Linked DNA regions of Homo sapiens: all the other regions are linked to region 3. The links come from fine-mapping of genetic effects on plasma protein levels. Region 3 holds a variant in brackets. A gene starts in each other region. All regions are shown on their reverse strands.

Region 1 (8,221 bases), not on the chromosome of region 3:
CTACAGTATAGTTTACACTGGAAGTGGAAAGTTTTTGTTTCGTTTTGTGTTTAATCCAAATATATAAAGATGCCACTATACTGTAAAGTCATTCAATGTTTACTTTTTAATTTCATATGCTTTGGTTGGTGTTTAAAGTGTTCCTAGGTCCAGCTCCAAATTTATTCCACTTTACTTTCTTTCACATATTTTATGCTTCTTTTAAATTGTACTGAATTATTCAGAGTTATTCTAATAGTAGTTATTATTTTTCCTTTTTTTTTTTTTTTTTTTTTTTTAGACAGAGTCTCTCTCTGTTGCTTGGGCTGGAGTGCGATGGCTTGATCTCGGCTCACTGCAAACTCTGCCTCCTGGGTTCAAGCAATTCTCCTACCTCAGCCTCCCGAGTAGCTGGCCTCCCGAGTAGCTGAGATTACAGGCGCCTGCCACCATGCCTGGCTTATTTTTTTGTATTTTTGGTAGAGACGGGGTTTCACTAAATTGGCCAGGCTAGTCTCGAACTCCTGACCTCAGGCAATTCACCTGCCTCGGCCTCCCAAATTGCTGGGATTATAGGCGTGAGCCACCGTGCCCGGCCTTTTTTTCCATGCTTTATTCACCTTGTTTCCTCCAGTTGACACTTCCTATCCAACCCTTGCCAATTCTTCCCCACCTCCATGTTTCTTATTCTCAATTAAAGTCCTATCTGGAATTCAAGACCTACCTCAAATAAGTACCTAATTCTTAAAGCTTTTTAAAAAATCTTTATATATTGTTATAATATCTTTTACATGTTTATACACAGTTTGCATTGCTTATATTCTCTTGGAATGATATCTTATTGTATATGATGTTTTGGTTATTTGGGTACTGCTTCTAGTTTCCACCAATTGGAAGAAAGGTTGTGACTTAGTCATATTTGTGCCTCATTTATGCCTCAACACAGAACATTGTGTATAATAGACATTCAATAAGCATTTGTTTAAATAATAAAATTATGCAAAATGCCAAAATTATTTTCTAGAATGTATGGCACAATTTCCTCCTACTTCTCACTGATGCGCAATATAACCACTCATGGAAATAATTTGGTTCTTTTTTTTCCTAAAACTGCAAACCCCTATGGACGTGATTATAGATGCGCTTGTTTATTCATGCAGACAGTCAAACTGTGTTTTGACTATTTTAATTGCCTTATTTCAATACAGAATAATTTTTTCTTGGCTCTTTATGTCTTGATAGCTGTTAAGTAGATTAAAAAACAAAAATGGAAAACAGGAACTTCTATAATCCTCTACCCTTAGAATGGTGGATTTCTATTAAGATATATGCATTAAAAGAACAAACTCTACCAAAATTTAACTTTTAGATGTAAATTGCAGTAAACAGAATAGCAGAAGCTTAGAGAAAATTTTTCCAAATACACTCTGTGTTTTAGAAACAAAGATTTTTAGAAAAAGCAAAATTTGAGAATTTTCTCCCCACTATTTCATTTAAATAGGTCTCTTAACAAATATAATTCACTTGTGATTTTCCTCATCATTTTGTAGCTTTGAAAGCTGTATTTGATGAGAAAAACCTGTTTCCCAAGGAAATTCTGCATCATGAACGAAAAGCCAAGCAATTATGCCAAGAAAAAAGTTGTGAAGTGAAGAAAAATAAGAAGTAATTACAACAGAAAAACCTTCACTGTTACATAAGGTACAGATATAAAATGCAGAAAAAGCATCAAGAATTCTGCCTTTTATTTTATTTTATATTTAAACTTCAGGAAGTTTTCTCTTCATGGGATAATTTAGTACTGCTTTTATCTATCATCTGTCAATTTCTCTGTATTCTTAATAAAATAAATATTGAACTAAAGTGGGAGCAACATCTTGGTATTTATTCTCAAGGATTTTTATATAAAAACTTTATGATTCCAGAACAAAGTTCTAACCAGTTGCCCTTCTGGTTGTTCCTATAGACAAACACTTTTGATCAGTTTTCATTGTAAAACCTGCATTGAAATATATGAAAAGTACTGACGGAGTAAATATCTACAAATGTGAATAAGAAAACTGTTTCCACTTTTTTACACTTTCTAGTAGTTTTTAAATGATTCTCATAATGGTGATTAGACTTTGTCAATAGCACCACTTCCTGTTAATTCTTATTGGCTTTTATTCATTCTATAAACTTATTGGAAAATTACTGCATATGATCTACTTCAATAGTTTGTTATACTGTACTTTAAAATTGAATGCCATAGCACATTGAAGATGTAATAGTCTTGAAAAAAAATCAAAGGGCCTGGGGCTATATAAAGGACCCACTCTATGTGGAAAGTCAAGTGGGAAATATTTGGTTCTTTAACTTACTGCCTCTGTTTGTTGACCCATTTTTATTTACAAATATAATCATCTTCCAGGCAATATTATTATTCTGCTTTATTTATTGTGTCCTATAGAAAGAATTGGTAAATTCATTTACATAACTATAATGACTTACTGTATATTTATATTTTAAAGAGTGCTTTCAAAACCAGCTAAAGTTTAAGAAGAATTTTTCAATAACACATGTAGTAAAGGAAAATAATTTGCAATAGGTAGGGGACCACTTGGTATAGCAACTGCAAATGTCCATTGTGTTTAAACCACACAATAATCATATGAATATATTAGCTTAGAGCTAAAATATGAGATGCGAATCTATTAGGAGAGTGCTCAATTATCAATGGCAGAGTTGAGATTGGAACCCAGGTCTGTTTTACTCCCAAACCATGGTATTTGCCATTCATCATTCTGTACACTTGCTTCTTATTAGTATAAAGCCAATGGAATGAATTCTAACACTAGACTTTCCAGCACCAGTGGAGCAAATATTTTGGTTTGGTGGAGAAGGCGGTGATGGAAGGACTTTCAGAAGACAGCTGCCTATTCTAACTACATTTAAGTGTATTCTGAGTTAGGCATTATGACTTCTATTCATATCGCCTTTCCTCCTCATGGAATGAAAATTACATGCAGGAAAGATTGTAGGAGAAAAGTATATTTGTCTCTGTGTGTGTGTGCGTGTGTGTTTGTCTGTTGGGTGGTGTGATGATGTACAAGAAGTGTCCTTGTTTTAGAAAAATATAATAATAGAATGTTTAAGTATGATAGAAATTATGTTTTTAGCTTGCTATAAAATGATTCAGAAAATACTAATTATATGTATATATAAAATGTATATATATGCACACACAGGTAACACATATACATATCTATATTTACATCTGTTTGCTTATTGGGAGGATAGATACATAGATGAAACACACACATGCGGTAGATGCTAACAATTGGGGAAAGAGGAGGAGGTGGAGATAGCAGTTCTTTGAACTATATCTGCAACTTTTATGTAAATTTGAAAGTATTTCAAGGTAAATTTTTTTAAAATATAAAAAGTTGCTTTTGAACAAAAAGATTATTTGAGATGTTCAAGCAGACACTGGGTAACTGTCTCACGGGGATATTGCAAAGACTTCTTGCACTGGGTAGGAGGTTTGACTGGGTAATCCATCATTTCAAACTCAGAGCACATGATTTATGAATCATAGGTTGGTGATAGTACAATGGAGTGAAATCTGAGCCACATGCCCAGAAATTTAATGGAATGTTAAGATGTTATAAAAGTAGAATGCGGGTACCAAATAATTTGCAAAGGCTCTTTTCCCCACTGATCCGTCCATCCCTCATGTAAGTATTGAAGGCATGTATAAGAGATTATTTTAGGTTCCGGGTATTCACATATAAATAGAATGCACCTTTTCTACCCTCAGCGTTCTGAAGTGAAGCTATATAAAATGTAGTGGTTTATTAAGCCAATACTAAATGAGCCCACTGGCATAAGTTGGAAATTCATAATCTGGCATATTTTTTCCAGTCTAATTTGGGAATTCTTTTGCTAGATATACTTTACTGTTTACCCTTGAAGATAACTTTGTTTGATGTGATAGCCTGAGATAGTCTGGTTCATACAGACAGACCTTCTCTCTATAGCCTACTACATGTGCATGGTATTATGCTGTAACTCTAATTCCATCCTTAATTAACATCAGGGCTTCTTCTGTAAAAGGAATTAAGAAGAGCTGTCTCATAAATATATTCAATGAGAAGAGAACTTTTAAAGGTATGAGACTTTCAAGGTAACTGTTTCTAATAATTTGGAGAAAAAACACAAAAAGAAGAAAAAAGACAATGTCTTTTTTTCTGTGTCTTACTCTTCTTTTGTAACTCACAGCATCTAATTTTCTAGGCAGGTAGCAGGATCTCACCTGTCAACTCTTAACAGAACTGAAGGCATTATAAACTGTTTCTGAAATTAACATTCAGATTCAATTACTTATGATCCATTTTTCTGTGGTAAAAGGAATTGGTCACATTAAAATAGGATATGTCATAATTTTCAATAGGCTACCTTGTTTGTATTACTTATATTTACACTAAATATAATTTAACATTTTCTTTTGTCAGAACATTTTCCTATTATCACTCAAAATTTAGGAACAATCTTACCAAAAAAAATTGCCTGAAATGAGTCCATGCTTAAATGGAAGAATTAACTTTTAAGTTCTTTACTGATGAGGGCATTTGCTTATACATTTTTAAAGTTTGGAATTAAGTGCACTTTTACTTGAAAAAACTATAAAAGGATAAGAAAATTGATGAGATGATAACTGTAACCCTTTGCTGTGGTTTTTATATATATTCCTAGGCTTATACTTTACAGTCGGACAGTAATGGCGATCAACCTTCTACCAAGACACGTTGGCTCTCATTAATGAATAATTCTCCCCCCACCCCGATTTTCTAGGAGCAAAATAGAATTGTAGAAAAAAGCGGTTTGGGAAAATATTTTAAAAATTTGTGGTAATATTTTATGGACAATTGTATTGTCGTCATTGTCTATTAAAAGAGGTTAAACCAGGGAGAATAAATTTATGGCTATTGCTTTTTACTCCTCAAGAGACAGGAAAATGAACATTCTGCCTGAACTGCTCTAATATAAGGTCCTTACAGAACAATTTCATTAAATGGTCTTAGTAGGACAGAGTGACGGTCTCTGCCATTGGTAGGAAAAGTAATGGACTATTTCTGGATAAATCACATTGTGATCTGAGCAGTGTACAGACATAATGATGTGGTAGCCAAGGGTACTGGTGATATATGTTTGCTGGTGTCAGTAAATGGGTAGAAAAGCATTGATTGAATGATAGTCTTGACATTCAGACTTAATATTTATGTATTGCAGTGTGAAGCAAGTAGAATGATAGTATTCTTGTATTGCACAACTCTTTTTGGAAAATTATCTCTGTGTTAAGTTAAAGCTACACTAGAGTGTGCTTATGATAGAGTAGGTAATATTAGAATAAAACTCAAGATCTAGAAAACATTTGGAGATGCCTATATGGGAAATCAAAAAATTTTAGTTAATTAGTAGATTATGGCCTATAATGATCTATTCTCAGGCCTATTTTTAAGTTATAGCCATGTTAGGACATGGAAAGATGTTAACAGGGTCCTCTGACAAGTTTTTAAAAATGAATTCCATTTAAAGCTATCTATATTCACTTTATTTCTTTTACATGAGTTTATCAGAAATAGTATTAAATTTGGGGATCAACAGATATTTAATTAAAAGTGAACTAAATTTTTTTTCTCTTCTCAAAGGCTATAGATAAATAATACAATGTGCTTAATATCTGATTGCCATTGAGGTGATTGATTTGAACTACAAAAATGAGATGAAACCCATTAAATTATGCAATTTTTTATTAATGACCTTTTTGCAAAGAAAATCATGTAGAGTTTCAAAAGCACATAAAGGTAACAGCAATTTTTATCATCCAATTACCTATGGCTAATAGTATTGTCCTGATATATTTTGGCAAATCCATTATCTTTTTTGCTGGCCTTTCTGCTCAGAATAAAGAACATATTTCTTCAATATCCACTCTTTTTCTTAAGGATTCAAATGGACCTTATATCCACAGGAAACTCCTCTGACTATTGTATAATTTGATGAATGTTGAGAACTCTGTCAATGCAGCAGTGATTTGTCTCTGTATTCTGGACTTGATTTAGCTTTATTCTTTTTCTCATAGGCATTCTGAAATATTTATGACAAAGTGCATTGGTAATCTGATGTAGGAGTCCTGTGAGAAACAAAAAGAACTAATTACTAGCAAATTTACAACCAGTAGCGCATCCTTTCAAATTCTGTGCAACTTTTAAAAGAAGCAAAATAATGGATAAAATAATAATATAAATTTAATACTTTTAAAAAATTCTATAATTGTTTTTTTCTCAATTCTTGCACATTTCATCAGTTGATCATTAACCCGATTGTGTTAGTTCTTAATACAAATGTAGTGAACACCTGCTTTTGTTCTAGAGGAATTAATCAAGCAATGGTCAAGATAAATGGAGTTGGCCTTGATCGCTCAGGTGTTTATGTACAAGAGTTTTCCAGCAAGCGTATTTTAGTTGTAACATTCCAGTGAATAATCAGAAGTCAGTTTGGGGTAAGTACCTTAGAAATAAATAGCTTTTGAATAAGTATGTATGCAATAACATTGCCTATGAATGTTTAGTAGAGTATGGAATGGCATTTCAATTTACTTTGGTGTAAAAATCATTTGAATTTATTTAATTAACATATCGCTTTTATTCTCCTTAAATGATTTCACCACAAATCAGAAGATCCAGTTCTTATAGGACTATTCATCAGGTTGTTTAGTTCAGCATTACTTTGTGCTTTCTGATAAGATATGATCCAAAACCTGATGAGGTAAGTGAGTTTTTAAAACCAATATTTGTCTGAGGTTATAATTTATTAAGTGCTTAGAAATTTTCTAGAAAAAATGGATGTGGATGCTCAAATAATATAAATTTAATTATTAAGATTATTAATAATAATGAGAAGGAAACTCTAATACTGAGATTCTACCACAAAGAAAAAAATTACATTTTTAATAATACTGTTCATTATTCCAATATAAACCAAATACATAAAGCTATATCTAATGTATTTCCAGTTGATAACTTAAAGGTACTAATAACATTTTGACTACGTATCTACAAACACATATTTTGGTCAGAAGTCTTCTGAGAAATTGAATATATTAGAAGATAATGATACACAGACATTTATTTTGCATGTAAAACTTCTCTTACTCACTGGTTTTTAACTATTGTTGCACTCTCATTTATAAGCTCATATGCTAAATTAATCCCTAATGAAACATTTGCTTGATATTAATAGCATATAGGTCTATATCTAAAGTTTACCAACACATTTTCTAACAATTGCTTTGGATTGTTTTTTGAGGCTTTTGTCTTTTGCAAATATATATCTAAACAAATACAGTTTAACAAAATACATTGAAGGATAAATAATGACTCCATAGTTTAATTTGGAACAATATTTGACTATTAGTAATCTTTATATATAAATATAGTTGTTCTTAGGGACTCCTACCATTTATGGTACCCTTAATGATCTGCAAAACACTCTAGAAATGTAAGTCTCTACTTAAGGCTGACAACAGACTATTCTAAAGGCTTTCATCTTTACCCCTAATTAAGGGTTACTTCCTAGTAACTTACTGATGGATAAGTTTTTAAGGATTACTAACATGTATTATTTATAAGGTAAAATTATTGTTACTAAAATTTATGAGGCCTTGGAGTCAACATTCTACCAAATATGTGGTAATATTGCAAAACTAATTCTGCTTGAGATATAATCAAATGGTTGAATTTCCTGCAATTTTAGTGGAGAGCACTTTAATAGGGTATTATTAGTCTTGTGAATTGTTTATGGTTTTTAATTGCTGCTACTCTTACATTTGTTAGTATTTCTGTCAATTCTTTGATATTATATTTCATTTTATTTATATTTTTTCTTTTATAATTTCAAGTTTTATTACAGATTAATGTACATGTGCAGGTTTGCTACATGGGTATATGGCCTGACACTAAGGTTTGGGGTATAAATGATCTCATCACCCAGGTAGTGAGCATAGTACTTTATTGTATCATTTATATTTGATTGCCATTTTGTTTCAAACTTTGCAGGTTTTCTGCATTGTATTTGTCTTCTTTTGGAAAAGCAGGAAGAGGGCTTTGGGTTATTTTGTCCTAAGAAATAAAGCGTGAGGAAAATTGTAAAAAGTTAGCCAGATTACTCAGTTGCTTTAGAATACATTAATTTTCTAATA
Region 2 (7,694 bases), not on the chromosome of region 3:
TCCCTTCCTTCAGCAGGGTCTGGAGGGAAGGATAAGAATAATAATGCCATCTACCCATCAGGGGTGTCCAATCTTTTGGCTTTCCTGGGCCACATTGGAAGAAGAATTGTCTTAGGCCACACATACTAACACTAATGATAGCTGATGAGCTAAAAAATTACAAAAAAGTCTCATAATGTTTTAAGAAAGTTTATGAATTTGTGGTGGGCCACATTCAAAGCCATCCTGGGCTGCATGCAGCCCATGGGCCGCAGGTTGGACAAGCTTGCCTTACTTATATAGTGCTCACTATGTATTGGTCACTCTTCTGGGCATTTATAGGTATTTATTTATTTAATTCTCACAATACCCTATGACATGCATGCTACTATTATCCTGATTGTATAGATAAGGCAACTGAGGCACAGAGAGGTTAACTAACTTACTCAAGATCAATCAACTAGCAAGTGGCTGAGACATAATTTGAACCCAGGTAGTCTGGCCCTAGAATCTTTACCCTGCATCATATTTCAAGAGTCCAAACCCATGAACCTCTGCCCTCCCATGTCTTCTTCTCTTCTGGATGAGCCTGTGGTCAGAGTGTAACCCAAGTTTCCCTCAATGGGCAAAGGCTAGCACAGGAATTTGGACCTGACCTGATGGAAGGTGGCTCCATCCAACAGGACCCCATCTCGGAACCACAGCAATTCAGGGGTAGGGCGGGCATCCCCACGGCTCCGACATGTCAGGTTCGCAGGAACTCCAGCAACCAGAGACACAGAGGGGCCGCCCAGCACCTGGGGGGCTTCTGGGGGGACTGCAAGGTGGATTTGGGGTCAGAGATGGATCCTGATCTTCTCAGCTCCAATTGACCATGCCCCTGGGCTCCCTGGGCTCTGCTACTCACAGCTAGTACGGGCTGCCCTCTTGGGCTCCCAGGGGACAAGTGGGCGAGGTCCTTACCCAGCACGTGCAGTTGGGCTGGTCTGGAGCGGAGGCCTGCTTGTGTAGCCTGACATTCATATGATGCTTCATCCTCTAGCTCCACGGGCCTAATGTGGAGGTCATGCTGGCCATTGGCTGCATTCCCTGATATCCAGTACCGGGACCACCCTGGAGTCAGGGAGAAGGCAGTCAGCACACCATGGTTCTGAAATCCTGGCCTCAGGCCTCCATCCCCAGACATCCTCCACCAGAAAACTGGCCCACACATTTGGTGGTAAGACACTATTAAAAAGTGTGTACTGGGCCCAGAGAGACTCTAACTCCCTCCCAACCCAGAGTCACTGCAAACTTAGGGGTAATAAAGTCAGGAAGGAAAGCAAGAAAATGATTGCCATAAAAATTAGGTTAGATACTACTTCTGGAGTGAGGGGGAGGGGGCTATGATAGGGGAAAGGAACACGGGGTCTTCTGGGGAGCTAGCAATGGACTTGGGTATTGGCTGTGTGTGTCTATTTTATTTGGTAAATCTTCCATTTATATTTACTGTACTTTTTTGCATTTATGTTCTCTTTTTTTTTTTTTTTTGAGACAGGGTCTCACCATTGCCTGAAGTGCAGTGGCTTGATCATGGCTCACTGCAGCCTTGAACTCCTAGGCTCAAGCAATCCTACCACCTAAGCCTCCTGAGTAACTGGGACTATAGATGCACACCACCATACCCGGCTAATTTGTTTAAAATATATATATACATTTGTGTAGAGATAAGGTCTTGTTATGTTGCCCAGGCTGGTCTCAAACTCCTGGTTTCAAGCGATCCTCTGGCCTCAACCTCCCAAAGCGTTGGGATTACAGGCGTGAGCCACTGCACCTGGCCTATGTACTATTTTGCAATAACATAATAATTCCCAAACTCCGTGGGTCACCCCCAAAGAAGCAGCTCAAAAATCAGGACTCCTAAATGTTTACCCGAGCCCATCAATTTCCCAAACTTGAAAATGTCAAAATAGAAACTGCAGGTACAGCCGAGCCCAGCAACTCTCCCCCTAGCCAGCCCGTCCCAGCGTGGAGAGAACACTCTTACCTGGTAGGTCCCTTTGGCCCCCTAGGGCCAGCCCACTCTTAGTCCACTGAACTAGCCCCCAGTAGGCGCCCAGAGCACACGGCAGCCGGGCTTCCTCCCCCAGCAGCACCACCAGGTCCTCTGGCTGTTGCAGGAAATGGGGCGACGGGCCTAGGAGAGTTCGGGGCAGCAGGGCTGAGCTTAGCACCTTCAGGGGCCTCCTCATTCAGGACCCAGGAGTCCCAGCCCCCAGCTCCCTTCTCGCTAGTGAAGAGGCAGCCCGCAAGCAACTCCCCACCCCCACCCCATATTCCTCCGCTCCCCTCGTGCGGTACCTGCTCTCCCTCTGAAGCAGAAGAGGAGGACGAGGAGGGCGGGGACCCGCATCCTGAGCATTCGTCCCCCAAGGTTCACGAGATTTGCCGTCGCACTGGCCTTCCCGTCAACTTCTTCCTCTCAAGCACGCCTCCTGTCACCCTGGCCCGGAGCCCCCTTCACGCTCGACTCTTCGCCCAGCCTAGTCTCTGGCCTGGAGTCCTCCAAGTCTGCTCATCCGCAGCCTCTGACGCTCTGAAACGCCTGCCAGTTCCGCGGCCTGGGTCTCTGGGAGACCCCAAGAGGGCCCGATCCCGCTCGCCCCGCCCGGGTCCGCCCCCCGGGAGCTCCGCCCTCTTCCCGTTGAGAAACTCCCGCGGCTGAGACGCGGATGAATGGGGGACGCAGGGCGGGATCCCCCGGCGGGTGGGCGCCCCCAGCTCAATTGGGGTCTGGGAGCCGGAACACCTGGGTTCGAGGAGGGAGGGGGTCCCGGCTGGGTTGGACACCTGCGCCCTGCCGGGGTTGAGGGGCAGGCAAGGGGTGAGGAGGAGGGAAGGGAGAGAGTGGAAGAAACTTGCTCAGCCCAGGTCCTAGAGGGACTGCGCTCAGTGGAAACTGAGCTATAAATGGGAGCTCCTGGGGCCTCGCCAGTTTCCGCGCCCTGGGGGATGCGGGGTCCGGGGCTCCCCCGGGCCTGCGTGTCGGGAAGAGGGCACACCGATACCTGGGGGACAGTTGGGACCCCTACCTCGACTCCCCCAGCCTCAAAACCCCTCCTCAAAATATCCCTCTGTTCCCTTGTTATTGCTGCAAACTACAGCACGTCCTAAGACCCAGGAATCCAGGCCCTCGGCCCCTCCTTTCCCAGGACCCCGCAGTCCCAGCCCAACCCCTCTCCCCACTCGGCCGGCCGGGCCCCTCGGCCTGGTTGCCCGGCGACGGCTGGGAGGCGGCGGTGCCGGGCCGGGGCAGGCAGGGAGGCTGGGAACCGCGCAGCTTGTCCTGACGGCTCCATGCAGCCCAGCTGGGGCGTTCCCACGCTGCGCAGCTGGCCGAGCAGGTGGGAGGGACCCCGAGCAGCCTGAAGGAGGGCTGGGGGGCTGGGACCCTGATCTGACATTCCTGGACCTGTAAGAACTGGAGGGTCCACATTCAGATTCTCCACTGTTCTTAGGCTCAGACTCCGTGTCCCTAAATGGGGGAGTGGGGTTGGGAGTGGGGGTTGGACTTACAGGGTTATAAGGGACTGGTGGTTCAGGCCTTTGCTGGCTGAGACGCTGATGGCCTGATCTCCCGGTTCCTTGAGAGGCTGGAGACTCAAGGTGCACTCAAGTGCATGGTGCACTTGGAAGAGGGTGACAGGGGTCAGAATATCTGGTCTTAAGTCTTAAGAGTCGGTGGATCTATCTGCCAATCTCTCCCCACCCCCACACAGGCCCAGGAGGATTTGGAAATCAGACCGTGAACATCTGTCCTAAGTCCTGTGTGTATGTGTGTGTGTGTGTGTGTGTGTGTGTGTGTGTGTGTGTGTGTGTGTGTGTATGGGGAGGTGCGGGGGTGGGTAGTGTGGCCAGGAGGATCAGAGGCCCAAATTCCCGAGTCCTTGGAGAGAAGGGACTGAGACCCCAGGGTCTGAGAGGGGAGGGATCTGGGGGCCTACACTCCCGGCTTCTGTGTGGCTTATCTAGTGCCTGGATTTTGAAATAGGATGGACATGGGGCTGGAACTCCTGAGTCTTAGGGAGGAACTCAAGTCATGGGGCTGTTTTTCCAGGCACTTGACGCCGCTTCCCCTTCCTGGCTCTCTGGGGCTACGGACATGGAAAGATGGAGAGCCCAAGGTCCCAGGAGCATGCAGAGAAGGAAAACAGCCAAGGTGGAGGGTGGAAGGTTTGTGCTTATTAAAGGCCCCAGCAAGGGACAGCTCCACGCTCTGGCACCTAGGGACACCATCTGGCGAGGGCCCCCAGGACAGAGCCACTCCCCCAGCTCGGCATCCAGCCCATTTCCCAGGGGGTGTAGAGAGCAGTTGGGAGAGGGGAGGTGGGAGGAGGGCAAGGAGTCAAGCATGTGAGGGAAGATGGAAGTCCAGCATCGAGGATGAAGCTGGGGGCTGAGGCCAGATGCCTCATCTTGTTCCTGGGAACGATATTGGCGGGGGTCTTGGGGAGGTAGGGAGAAAACTAGCATTTCCAATTCCCGCAGGAGATAAGCAGGCAGAAGAAGCTTATCCCAGGCAAGTGTATGTGCACGCGGGGAGGGCAGGCCCACCAGCATATGGTTATAAAATCCAGGGATGTGATGAGCAGAGCCACTCGGAGATGGAGAGACACATAAGAGAAAGAGGCGTGGTCAGAGTGTGGCTGAGAACAAATATTTATGGAGCTCCTGGTGTGTGTGAGACAGACTGTGGGGTGAGGGGAGCGACAGAGGTGAGAACAGAGACAGAGAAACAGAATAACAGAGACATATAGAGATGGAGAGACACAGTGAAATAAAGATTGACTGAGATTTAACAACTTAATATAGAGAGCGAGAGAGTCTCAAACAGATGGAGAAAGATAGAAAGATAAATCAGCTGGGCACAATGACTCACGCCTGCAATCCCAGCACTTTGGGAGGCCGAGTCAGGCTGATCACCTGAGGTCAGGAGTTCGAGACCAGCCTGATCAACATGGAGAAACCCCGTCTTTACTAAAAATACAAAAAATTAGCCAGGCGTGGTGGCGCATGCCTGTAATCCCAGCTACTAGGGAGGCTGAGGCAGGAGAATCGCCTGAACCCGGGAGGCAGAGGTTGCAGTGAGCCGAGATCACACTATTACACTCCAGTCTGGGCAACAAGAGTGAAACTCCATCTCAAAAAAAGAAAAAAGAGAAAAAAGAAAAAAAAGAAAGATAAATCAAGGGCCAGGTGCGGTGGCTCATGCCTGTAATCCTAGTACTTTGGGAGGCCGAGATGGGAGGATTGCTTGAGCCCAGGAGTTCCAGACAAGCCTGGGCAATATAGCAAGACTCTGTCTCTGCAAAAACATTTAAAAAAAATTAGCCAAGTGGCGGGGTGCAGCGGCTCCCACCTGTAATCCCAGCACTTTGGGGGGCCAAGGCAGGTGGGTTACCTGAGGTCAGGAGTTCGAGACCTGCCTGGCCAACATGGCGAAACCCCGTCTCTACTAAAAATACAAAAATTAGCTGGGTGTGGTGGTCAATGCCTGTATTCCCAGCTACTCAGGAGGCTGAGGCAGGAGAATCGCTTGGACCTGGGAGGCGGAGGTTACAGTGAGCCAACATCGCACCATTGCACTCCAGCCTGGGTGACAGAGCAAGACTCCCTCTCAAAAAAAAAAAAAAAAAAAAAAAAATAGCCAGAGTGGTGATGCGGGCCTGTAGTCCCAGCTACTCAGGAGGCTGAGGCAGAAAGAACACTTGAGCCTAGGAGGTTTGAGGCTTCAATGAGCCATGATCACACCACTGCACTCCAGCCTGGGCAATAGAGAAAGACCCTGTCTCTACAAACAAATTTTAAAAAATTAGCTGGAGTGGTGGTGTGCACCTGTAGTCCCAGCTATTCAGGAGGCTGAGGCAGGAGGATCACCTGAGCCCAGGAAGTTGAGGCTGCAATGAACCAAGATCATGCCACTGCCCTCCAGCCTGGGCAACAGAGCAAGATTCCATCTCAAAAGAAAGAAAGATAAATCAAGATAGATAGAGGGAGGGAGAGAGAGAGACATGGAGAAGGAAAGAAGAGATGGGAGAGAGGGCAAGAAAAAGAGGGAGAAGAAAGCTCATGCAGTCCTTGCCAAAGGGCGCCCACTTTGGGCTCACACTGCACCCACACTGGGGGCCGGTGGAATTGGACTCTGCCTTTTACTCCCGCCCACACCCTGTGCACTCCCACGTAAGACACTGTCACACACACGCTCTCCACATGCTTATTACAGATCGCAGTTCACTCTAACCTTCCCCACTCTCACACCCACGTACACACATGCATATCTTCCCTCTCTCCCACACTCTCCCAGCCTGTCACACTCACTCTTGCATCCTCCCCAGCAGAGATCCCTGACATCATTTAGGCACTGATGTCTACTAAAAAAGGAAGGGAGGCCAGGTGCGGTGGCTCATGTCTGTAATCCCAGCATTTTGGGAGGCTGAGGCAGATGGATCACCTGAGGTCAGGAGTTCGAGACCAGCGTGGCCAACATGATGAAACCCCGTCTCTAGTAAAAATACAAAAATTAGCCAGGCATGGTGCTATATACCTGTAGCACCAGCTACTTGGGAGACAGAGGTGGGAGAATTACTTGAACCTGGGAGGTTCAAGCCATGGGAGGTGGAAGTTGCAGTGAGCCGAGATGCCACTGCACTCCAGCCTGAGCAACAGAGCAAGACTATCTCAAGAAAAGAAAGAAAGAAAGAAAGAGACTTGCCAAGGTCATGTATCAGGGCAAGGAAGAGCTGGGGGCCCAGCTGGCTGCTCCCCTGCTGAGCTGGGAGACCACCTTGATCTGACTTCTCCCATCTTCCCAGCCTAAGCCAGGCCCTGGGGTCACGGAGGCTGGGGAGGCACCGAGGAACGCGCCTGGCATGTGCTGACAGGGGATTTTATGCTCCAGCTGGGCCAGCTGGGAGGAGCCTGCTGGGCAGAGGCCAGAGCTGGGGGCTCTGGAAGGTACCTGGGGGAGGTTGCACTGTGAGAATGAGCTCAAGCTGGGTCAGAGAGCAGGGCTGACTCTGCCAGTGCCTGCATCAGCCTCATCGCTCTCCTAGGCTCCTGGCCTGCTGGACTCTGGGCTGCAGGTCCTTCTTGAAAGGCTGTGAGTAGTGAGACAAGGAGCAGGAGTGAGGGGTGGCAGGAGAGAAGATAGAGATTGAGAGAGAGAGAGAGAGAGAGACAGAGAGAGAGGAAGAGACAGAGACAAAAGGAGAGAGAACGGCTTAGACAAGGAGAGAAAGATGGAAAGATAAAGAGACTGGGCGCAGTGGCTCACGCCTGTAATCCCAACACTTGGGGAGGCCAAGGTGGGAGGATGGCTTGAAGGAAAGAGTCTGAGATCAACCTGGCCAACATAGTGAGACCCCGTCTCTAAAAAAAAAAAAAAGAAAAAAAAAAGAAAAAAGAAAAAAAAGTTTTTTTAAAGAGACAGAGAAAGAGACTCAGAGATTGAGACTGAGAGCAAGACAGAGAGAGATACTCACAGGGAAGAGGGGAAGAGGAAAACGAGAAAGGGAGGAGAGTAACGGAAAGAGATAAAAAAGAAAAGCAGGTGGCAGAGACACACAGAGAGGGACCCAGAGAAAGCCAGACAGACGCAGGTGGCTGGCAGCGGGCGCTGTGGGGGTCACAGTAGGGGGACCTGTGATGGCCCTGGGGACGACGCTCAGGGCTTCTCT
Region 3 (8,268 bases):
CCGGCTTCCTCCCCAGCCACCTGTCCGCCATACCTTCCGACCTGGCCCTGCTGGGAAGTACTTGAGAGTAGGGAAGCCGTGCACAGCGAAGGCATCCAGCTCGTTGGCCGTGGCATCCAGCTCAGCAATGATGATGTCCTCGTGGTCTTGGTACTTCTCAGCCAATGCCTCCCAGGCAGGGGCCATCTCCTTGCAGTGGGTGCACCACGGGGCATCTAGGATGGGAGCCGTTGAGCACAGCCATCTGGGCAGCCCCTGCCCAGCCCACACCACCCCTGCCTCCCTCAACACTCACAGAACTTGACAAACACATTCTTGGTTTCGTCAAAAGCCACCTGCTCAAAATTCTTGCCCACGAGGGTCTTAACTGGCCGCTGATCCCAATCAGGGGGTATCTCCTGGCTCAGGAGATAGGGCTGGGGGAAACCAGGACAGGCGCTTTGCCAGGGGTCCTCTGCAGGGTTCAGGAGGTCCTGTGCAGGGCCTGGGGGGTGGGGGGGAGGTCCTGTGCGGGGTCAGCGGCAGGGGGAGGTTCTGTGTGGGGGGGGCGGTGGGGGGGAGGTCCTGTGCGGGGCCGGGGGCAGGTGGGGGGGAGATCCTCTGCAGGGCCTGACAGGGAGGTCCTCTTCAAGTTTGGGAGAACTGTGGGGTTTAGTGGGGGGAGGGAGAACTGTGGGGTTTGGTGGGGGGAGGGACCTCTGTGGGGTTGGGGTTGAGGTTGGGGTTGGGAGAACCGCGGGGTTGGAGAACCGCGGGGTTGGGGTTGGGAGAACCGCGGGGTTGGGAGAACCGCGGGGTTGGGAGAACCGCGGGGTTGGGGTTGGGGTTGGGGTTGGGGTTGGGAGAACCGCGGGGTTGGGGTTGGGAGAACCGCGGGTTTGGGGTTGGGAGAACCGCCGGGTTGGGGTTGGGAGAACCGCCGGGTTGGGAGAATTGCCGGGTTGAGGGGGGCCTCTGCGGGGCCTGCAGGGGCAGGGGGCTCTGAGAGCTGCTGTTCCCACCCCCTGCCAAGCTGGTGGGATGAGGTCAGGGTTCCCCTTCCATTATGAGCAGTCTGCAGCGGACCTTGACTTGGCCGTTGAGGACTGCATGGCAGAAAGCAGTGATGGACGCTGCGGTGACAGGGCCCCCATCCACAGGCGCATACTTCTTAGTGGTTTCAAGGTTGACCAAGCGCAGAGTGGGGGCTGCCTCAGCCTTGAGTCCAAAGTACTGCAGCACGTGCTCATTGTCGGCCGCCACGTCCACCACCACGAACAGCACCTGTGGCAGGGAGTCCATGCTGGCACCGGCCACTCTCCCGCTGCCCCTTTCCCCCAGCCCCCCAGTACCTGCCCCCGGAAGCGGGGAGCTGCCTCCCCAAAGCCCGCTAGGAGCTCCCGGTGCGCAGCCAGCGTCTGGTTGACAAACAGCAGCAGGTGGTTGAGGATCCTGGCCGCGAAGATCTTGGCAGACGTCTACAGTAGGGAGGGTGCTCATGACTCCACAGGACCCCCAGCCTAGGCACCCCCATCCCTGGACGACTCTACCCTGGGACACCCCCAGCCCAGGCACTGCAGCCTACGCACCTGGCTGTTGAACTCCGTGACCAGGCGCATGCTGTGTGTGACCAGGAAGCGCGACAGATCCCCCAGGTCCAGGCCAAGCTCCTCGTCCACGGGGAAGTCTGCCCGCCCCTCATCAAACTGGACAGCAGCAGGTGGGTTAGCGGGCGCTGCAGCCGGACCCCAACCCACACCTGGGCCTGACCTACCTTCTTGAAGAGAACCACAGTGTCCTTGGTGAGGCCAAACTGCTGAAAGAGCCGCGGCCGGTCTGTGAGGCCAAAGGTCATGTCCAGGGCGTCCTGGGCCAAGGCCAAGAAGGTGGCCACGTCCTCGTCCTGCAGGTCCTGAGGGGCCTGGCCCTGTGAGGCCACCCGGTCCCACCCACAGTCACTGCCCTCATGGCCCGGCCCCCCATGCCCAGTGGCTCACCTGGAAGAAGCCAATGACCACTAGGTCCCGGCCACCGATCAGCGCCTGGGCGGCCGCCTCGTCCTCCAGCCGCATGGCACTGGGCCCCACCCGCCGTCGCAGCCACTCGGCAATGCCCTCAGCGTCCCGTGGTCCTGCAGGGAGTCCCCCTCAGCCTCGGCCTGGCCACCGCCCCCCCAATGACCGGCCTGCCCCTCACCTGTGTACTCCTCCGGGTGCGTGCGGTTCCCATTGCGGAAGAACTTGAGCGTAGGGTACTCCGTCACACCAAACTCCTCAGCCAGCTCGCGCTGCGCGGGCCCATCCACCTTGGCCAGCGTGACCACCATTGACTCGGCCGCGAGCACGGCAGCTGCCTTGCTGTACTCGGGGGCCAGGGCCTGGCAGTGCCCACACCACGGGGCATCTGGGGGATGGGGCCGTGAGTGCCCCAGGCCACCACAACCCCAGGAGCACCCTCTCCACACCTGACAACCCAGCAGGGAACAAGCGTGCTGCTCCATTCTGCCCTGAGCCCTGGCCGTGGACAAGCCGAGCACCAGTGCCTCTTCGTGGCCCCCCAGGCTGCAGCACAGGGACCAGTAAGGCTTGGGAGAGCTTGAAAGACCACCCCCCCTCCCCCCACAGCCAGGCTCAGTGGCTCACGCCAGTAATCCCAGCACTTTGGGAGGCAGAGGCGGGCATATCACCTGAGGTTGGGAGTTCGAGACCAGCCTGACCAACATGGAGAAACCCCATCTCTACTAAAAATACAAAAAATATTAGCCGGGATTGGTTGCGTATGCCTATAATCCCAGCTACTCGGGAGGCTGAGGCAGGAGAATTGCTTGAACCTGGGAGGCGGAGGTTGCAGTGAGCCGAGATAGGGCCACTGCACTCCAGCCTGGGCGACAAAAGCAAAACTCCATCTCAAAAAATAAAAATAAAAAGACCCCTCCCTTTCGTGCCTTGTATGGCTGGGGCTCCCGGGCCCATGTGGCTGCCTGTGAAGGCCTCCTAGGCAAGAACAGTTCCTATGTGTGTCAAGGGTTGCGAAAAGACCACAGGGCACACACGTCAGGGACCTCCATGGGCCCCCAAAGCCTGGATACTGCCCGAGCCTCTGCAGAGTCTGTGGGATGCCCCTGGCAGCTGGAGGAGTGGCCGGCAAGGTGGTGACTCTGGCACCGTGGCCGCTGGCCGAGCAGGGAGGCACAGGTGTTCTCAAGTCCTGTGGGTACCCCCAGTACTACCACACTGCTCCTGCCTGCCCCAACCAGACCCCCAGGCCCCTCCTAGAGAGCTCCTGGGCACAGTGGGGGCAAGTGCCTGCGGGGAGGCCCCTCTTGGGCACATGCCCTGCATTTGCCGGCAAAGGGTGGGGCCCCCAGGTGGGCTCTGCCGGTCCCCCGCCGGTCCCCAGCCCCACTGGCCCCAGCACTCACAGAATTCCACCAGCAGGGCAGGGTGCTCCCGCAGGGCCAGGCCCAGGGTGTGGCGGCTCAGCACCAAGATCCCATCCTCCTTGGGGATTTCCTCCTCTGGAGGCTCCTCCGAGGGGCTCCTCGCTCCCTGTTCCTGACCCCATGGGCACGAAGCCCTGAGCAGCAGCAGCAGCAGTACAGGCAGAAGCTGGCGGCTCATGGTGCTGCCAGGGCGCGTGGGGCGGGGGCAG[A/G]TAAGGGGGCCAGAAGCCAAGCAGCAGCTGCCACGTGGCACACAGGCCCAGTCCCAGCAAAGACAAGGCCCATGCGGCCGCCCCCGGCCCCCAGGGGAGGGGAGGCAGAAAGAGACGACACCCAGGGCACCGAGAGAGACAGGGCCATGTTTAATGGGACAGCTCAGGGGACAGCGCCAGGCCAGGGGGTCCCGGGACAGAGCAGGGGCAGCAGGGGCAGCAGGGGCAGCAGGGGAGGGTCTGGTCACTCACGGGGGGTGCTGGGGATGCTTGGGGGTCCCTGTGCAACAACTGAGGGAGGTAGGGGAGACACGGACTGGGGGTTCAGTCCTTCCAGTCCTGGCAGATGCAGAGACCCCACTCCCAGGACAGGTGGTGCGTCCTGTCATCGTCGGTGAAGAGGGACACCACCAGATAGGGGCCCCGCACCAGCGCACCCCTCGGCGCTTCCTCCACCGGAGTCACAAACTCATACTCCTGGGCGCTCGGGCCATAGCTGCCCACCATGTAGACGGTCTTGTCCACTAGGGAGGGCGAGGGCATCAGAGCTGTCCTCTGTCTGCCCCCGCTTCCCCCCCCCGCCCCGTTCCCCCCACCGCTGCCCTCACCGCGCAGGCCCCGGCGGTAGGTGTGGTGCAGACACTTGAGGCCGCTGACAATCTCCCTGTGGACCTGGGAACAGAGGCATTAGGGGTTCCTCTGGGGGCCAGGCCTCTGGCTGTTGCCCCCACCCCCATCCCCTCCGCCCATTGCCCCGGCTCTCACCTTGAAGGAGATCTTCACTCTGTAATCAACACCTTCCTTCAGGACAAACACCTGGTCCTTCAGAACAGCCAGGTCCCCTATTGGGGAAACCTCAGCTAGGGTCGGAACTCCCCTACAGGCTGAGACCTGCTCCAGGAGCCCCCACGTAGGGTGTGGTACCCATGAGGTGTGCGACTGTGATGGCCCAGGGCTCGGAACTCAGGGGTGCAGAAGCGTGCCTGGGAGGGCCCTACCTGTGTTCAGGGTGCAGCATCCTGCGAGTTACCTGTGAGATCCATGACGACGGGCCCCGGAGCCTGTTCCGACAGGAGTGTCAGCCTGGTCACCTGCACATTGGGCAGGCTTGGGTCTGAGGAGAAACTGGAAGTCTGCAGGATGCCCCCCACCCCCACCAGGCTCCTCACCAGCCCCCCAGACCCAGCCCTCCAAGCCTAGACCCCTGCCATACCCACGGCCGGTGGCAGGGGCCCCAGCAGCACCCGCTTGTACTTGGCCAGGCTCCTGTCGTCCGGGTCCAGCTGCCGGATCTCCAAGAGGCTCTTCCTCCCCGGCGCCCGGTACTCGGGCACAGCCTCATCCAACACCTCGTCCACTGCCGGCGGCCCACCCTCCTTGTCAGCCAGGAGGACTGGGGGTGGGGAGGGGCGTGAGCAGCAGCCACTAGCGGACCCTGGCATTCGAGCACCAGGCTGGAGCCCCCTCTGGCCAGCTGTACCTCCCACTATCCAAAGGGACTCAAGGGAAGCCTCTGGGGGCTCAGGGAGAGAGCGAGCAGAGAGAGCAGGGCGGCCTGGGGAGGTGCCGCACCGCACCCAGACCTTCAGGAGGGGCCTCCAGAGACCGCCAGGCCTGCAGCTCCTCTGGCCCAGATGTCCACAAGGGCCCCCTCCCTGACTCGGAGACCAAAGGGCGGGGGAGCGAAGACTTCAGATGAGGGCAGCCCAGGGTCAGGGGCTACCTGCTAGAGAGCAGCGGCCCTCGGCGGCCCCCAAACCTACTGACCCTCTAGGGCCCTCGGCGGCCCCCAAACCTACTGACCCTCTAGGGCCCTCGGCGGCCCCCCAAGCCTACTGACCCTCTAGGGCCCTCCACCACCCTGCTCTGGACTGGGGTCTCTGAACACTTTCCCACAGTCTAGGAGTTCCTCCCCATGGTGCTCGGGTGCCGGGGGCGGCTGTCTCCAAATCCCTGGGCTCAGGCTCTGCGCCGCCTCCCATGGCGCCCCGGGCTGGTGGCCTCCTGAAGCCCCTCTCCCTGGTGCCCTGGGCAGGGGTTTCTGAGTCCCTGCCCACTTCGCTCCCGTCTTCTCGGGGATCACCACACGCCCTACAGAGCCTGAGCCCCAGCCCCAGCCCCACCCAAGACAGAGGGGCTCCAGGCGGCGGTGTCCAGGGGGAGAGGGTCCCAGCGCCGCCGCTTCCCAAGCCGACCCGTCCGCACCTGGTCCCTTCCCCACAGGGCTGGAGCCTGGATGAAGTCCCCCACCCCTGCCAGACCCCAGCCGGGGGGTCGGCGCCGCGAGGTCCCCATGCGCGCCCCCAAAGTTGCCGCGGGGGAGGGGCTACTCCCCGCCCGGGGCTGAGACCAGCCGAGCCCCCCGCCCCTGCCCGGCCCGCTCACCTCGGGCGCACAGCGCCAGCCGGAGCAGCTCCAGCAGCTGCGCCCCCAGCTCGCACGCGTCCAGGCCCAGCATGGCGGCGCGCGGCCCGGGCGCCGCGGAGCCGCCGAGGAGCCGCCGCCCGCCCCGCCGCCGCCCCGCTCGGCGCTCAGCCCCGGCGCGACTGCGGTGAGCTCATCCCGGCCGGGAGCGCCCCCCGCGCCCAGCCGCGCCCGGCAGAGAGCCCCCAGCCGCTCCGGACCCCGCGCAGCCCCGCAGAGACGCGCGTGTCGCCCGCACGGGCCGGCACCCGGGTCGCCCCCGCCGGCGTGCCAGGACCCCGCACAGAAGCGCCCGGACGCGGACGCACGCAGCCGCGGTCACGATCCCCGCCGCCCGCCCGGCCCGTGCCCGGCTCTGGCCAGCAGGGCTGCCCCACCCCCACGGCGCGGCGGGAGCCCGAGGGGGTCTCCTGGGAAACCCTCTGCGGGGCGCCGTGGCGCAGGTGCGCCCCCATCCCCAGGGTCTCATTATCCGCGGCCACACCTGGGGCCGGACCGCGCGCCCCCTTCCCCTCCCCCGCTCCTGAGGGAGCTTCTGTCTGGGCCGAGGGGGACTCCGGGGGCCTGCCCAGCCTTGGGGTGAGGGGCTGGCCCAACACCCTACAGGTTCACGGTCATCAGTAGGGCGGGACCACAGTGGGCGCGGGTCGCACGCACACCCAGGAGGCAACAAGGGCCCCTCAAAGGCTTAGCGACCTGGCTGCGCTGTGTGAGTTCCCAAGAGGGGGTGTCCCTGCAGGGCTCTTGGAAACCCAGTTACCGAGCCCCCTGTCCTCAGGGAGAGGACACTGACAAGGGGGCGGAGTACAGAGACCGGAGCACAGAGGGGGCTTCTGATATTGACACCTAAACTGAGACCTGTGGGTGGGTGGGGGGGATGGGACCCGGCAGGGGACAGGGGTGAGCAGGCCCTGGCTGGGACAGCTGGACCAAAGGCCTGCGTCTGGATAAGGGAGAAGGGGTCCGAACACCAGCCTGAGTCCCTTTCTTAGACACCCCTGGCCGGTTCCAGGGACACCAGAAATTAGACCCGCCCTTGCCAAAGAGCTCCTCAATTGAGAGAAGACCACCTTGGGTGCTAGGGGGCATTGGGGTTTGGGTGGGGACTGTCTCCCTTGCCCCCCAACTGCCCACAACCTTTCCAGGGCAGGATCCTATGAACTTGTGCCCAGGCCCCCCTAGAGCGCCACCTCTGCTGACCCTTCGCTGCAGGGAGCGGGGGCTGTTAGGACACTTGTCCCCAGGCCCACAGCTCCAGCTCCTGCAGCTGTTACCAGATAGAAGGTCTTGGAGGTGAGTTGTCCAGGTTCTTGGTGGGTTGAACAAAGAATTGAACAAAACGCACAAAGTAACAAAAGAACAACGAAACACAAGGAAACAAAACTGAGTCAGAAGAACGGAGTAAGGAAAGCACAGATTTAACGGAAGGCAATTCACAGAGTGGGAGTGGGCTGGAGCAAGTAGCTCCAGAGCCTCTGTAATTAGGATTTTTATTAAGCAAAGAAACCTGACCACAGCCCTTGTGCCCTTTAGAGGCCTCCAATTGGCTACACCCTATGAAGGATTGGCCCGAGACCAATCAGAGGTGAAGTGGAAATTTCTGTCTTGTTATCACAGCAGCCAGGATGTGGCTTGTGAGCTGCCCAATCCTGCCTAGAACTGGCTGCACCTGCTGTTCCGTTTCTTATGCCCAACCCTTGGCTACCCTCATTCCCTATTCTGCCTCACAGCTACCATGGGTGCCCACCCCTGCAGACAGGGCAGCCAGACCTGGGCCACCTCACCCCACCTGGGTGTGGGGCATGGGAGGGCTCACTGGGATCCAAGCGAGATGGTACCCTGGAGTAAGAGACCCCACAAGCCCCCTGCCCCAGCTCATGCTGAACGTGGCCTCTCCGGCAATGGAAATGGACTCAGACCACTATGTTAGGGGCTCCCAGCCCAAGGCCAACCGCCCACCCTGCCCAGCCCCTAGCACCCTCTGAGTGGGTAAGGATGGGGAGAGGTACTCTGCCTCCAAGAAAGCAGAAATAGACCAGATGCGGTGGTACACATCTGTAGTCCCAGCTACTCAGGACGCTGGGGTGGGAGAATCACTTGAGCTCAGGAGTTTGAGGCTGCAATGAGTTTATGATTGCACCACTGCACTCCAGCCTGGGTGACAGAATGAGACTGCCATCTCTCAAAAAATAAATACATAGCCAGGTGCCATGG

Which allele goes with the higher level. Positions count from the first base shown, and alleles are read on the strand shown. Strength reflects both the effect of a copy and how common the allele is.
For the plasma level of the protein whose gene starts at base 6,484 in region 1, allele A in region 3 goes with a higher level than allele G (moderate association).
With allele A in place of G in region 3, the plasma level of the protein whose gene starts at base 2,589 in region 2 is lower (weak association).

What was found. PIP is the chance, under the fine-mapping model, that this variant and not a neighbour inherited with it causes the effect. The UK Biobank Pharma Proteomics Project read protein levels with antibody pairs (Olink). The fine-mapping took linkage between variants from a reference panel, not from the people measured, so its PIPs are less certain.
Region 1: SERPINI2 starts here. The variant in region 3 is fine-mapped to the plasma level of the SERPINI2 protein (UK Biobank, PIP above 0.99).
Region 2: it holds the start of KIRREL2, and the variant in region 3 is fine-mapped to the plasma level of the KIRREL2 protein (UK Biobank, PIP above 0.99).

The regions. Positions count from the first base shown.
Region 1 is chr3:167,472,305-167,480,525 of GRCh38, reverse strand. It overlaps SERPINI2 (serpin family I member 2), which reads left to right and starts at 6,484. Exons shown (of 9, transcript NM_006217.6): 1 at 6,484-6,523. It overlaps WDR49 (WD repeat domain 49), which reads left to right. Exons shown (of 19, transcript NM_001366157.1): 19 at 1,530-1,842. The coding sequence ends at 1,648. LOC105374197 (a long non-coding RNA gene) reads right to left here. Exons shown (of 3, transcript XR_924683.3): 3 at 6,066-6,154.
Region 2 is chr19:35,851,806-35,859,499 of GRCh38, reverse strand. It overlaps KIRREL2 (kirre like nephrin family adhesion molecule 2), which reads right to left and starts at 2,589. Exons shown (of 15, transcript NM_199180.4): 1 at 2,320-2,589; 2 at 2,006-2,155; 3 at 943-1,092; 4 at 636-796; 5 at 1-19. The coding sequence starts at 2,380. It overlaps NPHS1 (NPHS1 adhesion molecule, nephrin), which reads left to right and starts at 6,996. Exons shown (of 29, transcript NM_004646.4): 1 at 6,996-7,694. The coding sequence starts at 7,663. RefSeq lists an enhancer at 7,068-7,694.
Region 3 is chr16:278,501-286,768 of GRCh38, reverse strand. ARHGDIG (Rho GDP dissociation inhibitor gamma) reads right to left here and starts at 6,178. Exons shown (of 6, transcript NM_001176.4): 1 at 6,016-6,178; 2 at 4,844-5,023; 3 at 4,661-4,744; 4 at 4,396-4,472; 5 at 4,239-4,302; 6 at 3,759-4,154. The coding sequence starts at 6,088. The coding sequence ends at 3,955. PDIA2 (protein disulfide isomerase family A member 2) reads right to left here and starts at 3,605. Exons shown (of 11, transcript NM_006849.4): 1 at 3,401-3,605; 2 at 2,176-2,382; 3 at 1,977-2,110; 4 at 1,754-1,891; 5 at 1,569-1,685; 6 at 1,332-1,457; 7 at 1,066-1,263; 8 at 296-416; 9 at 34-215. The coding sequence starts at 3,599. RefSeq lists an enhancer at 5,280-6,037. The variant A/G (reference allele first, on the strand shown) is at 3,631.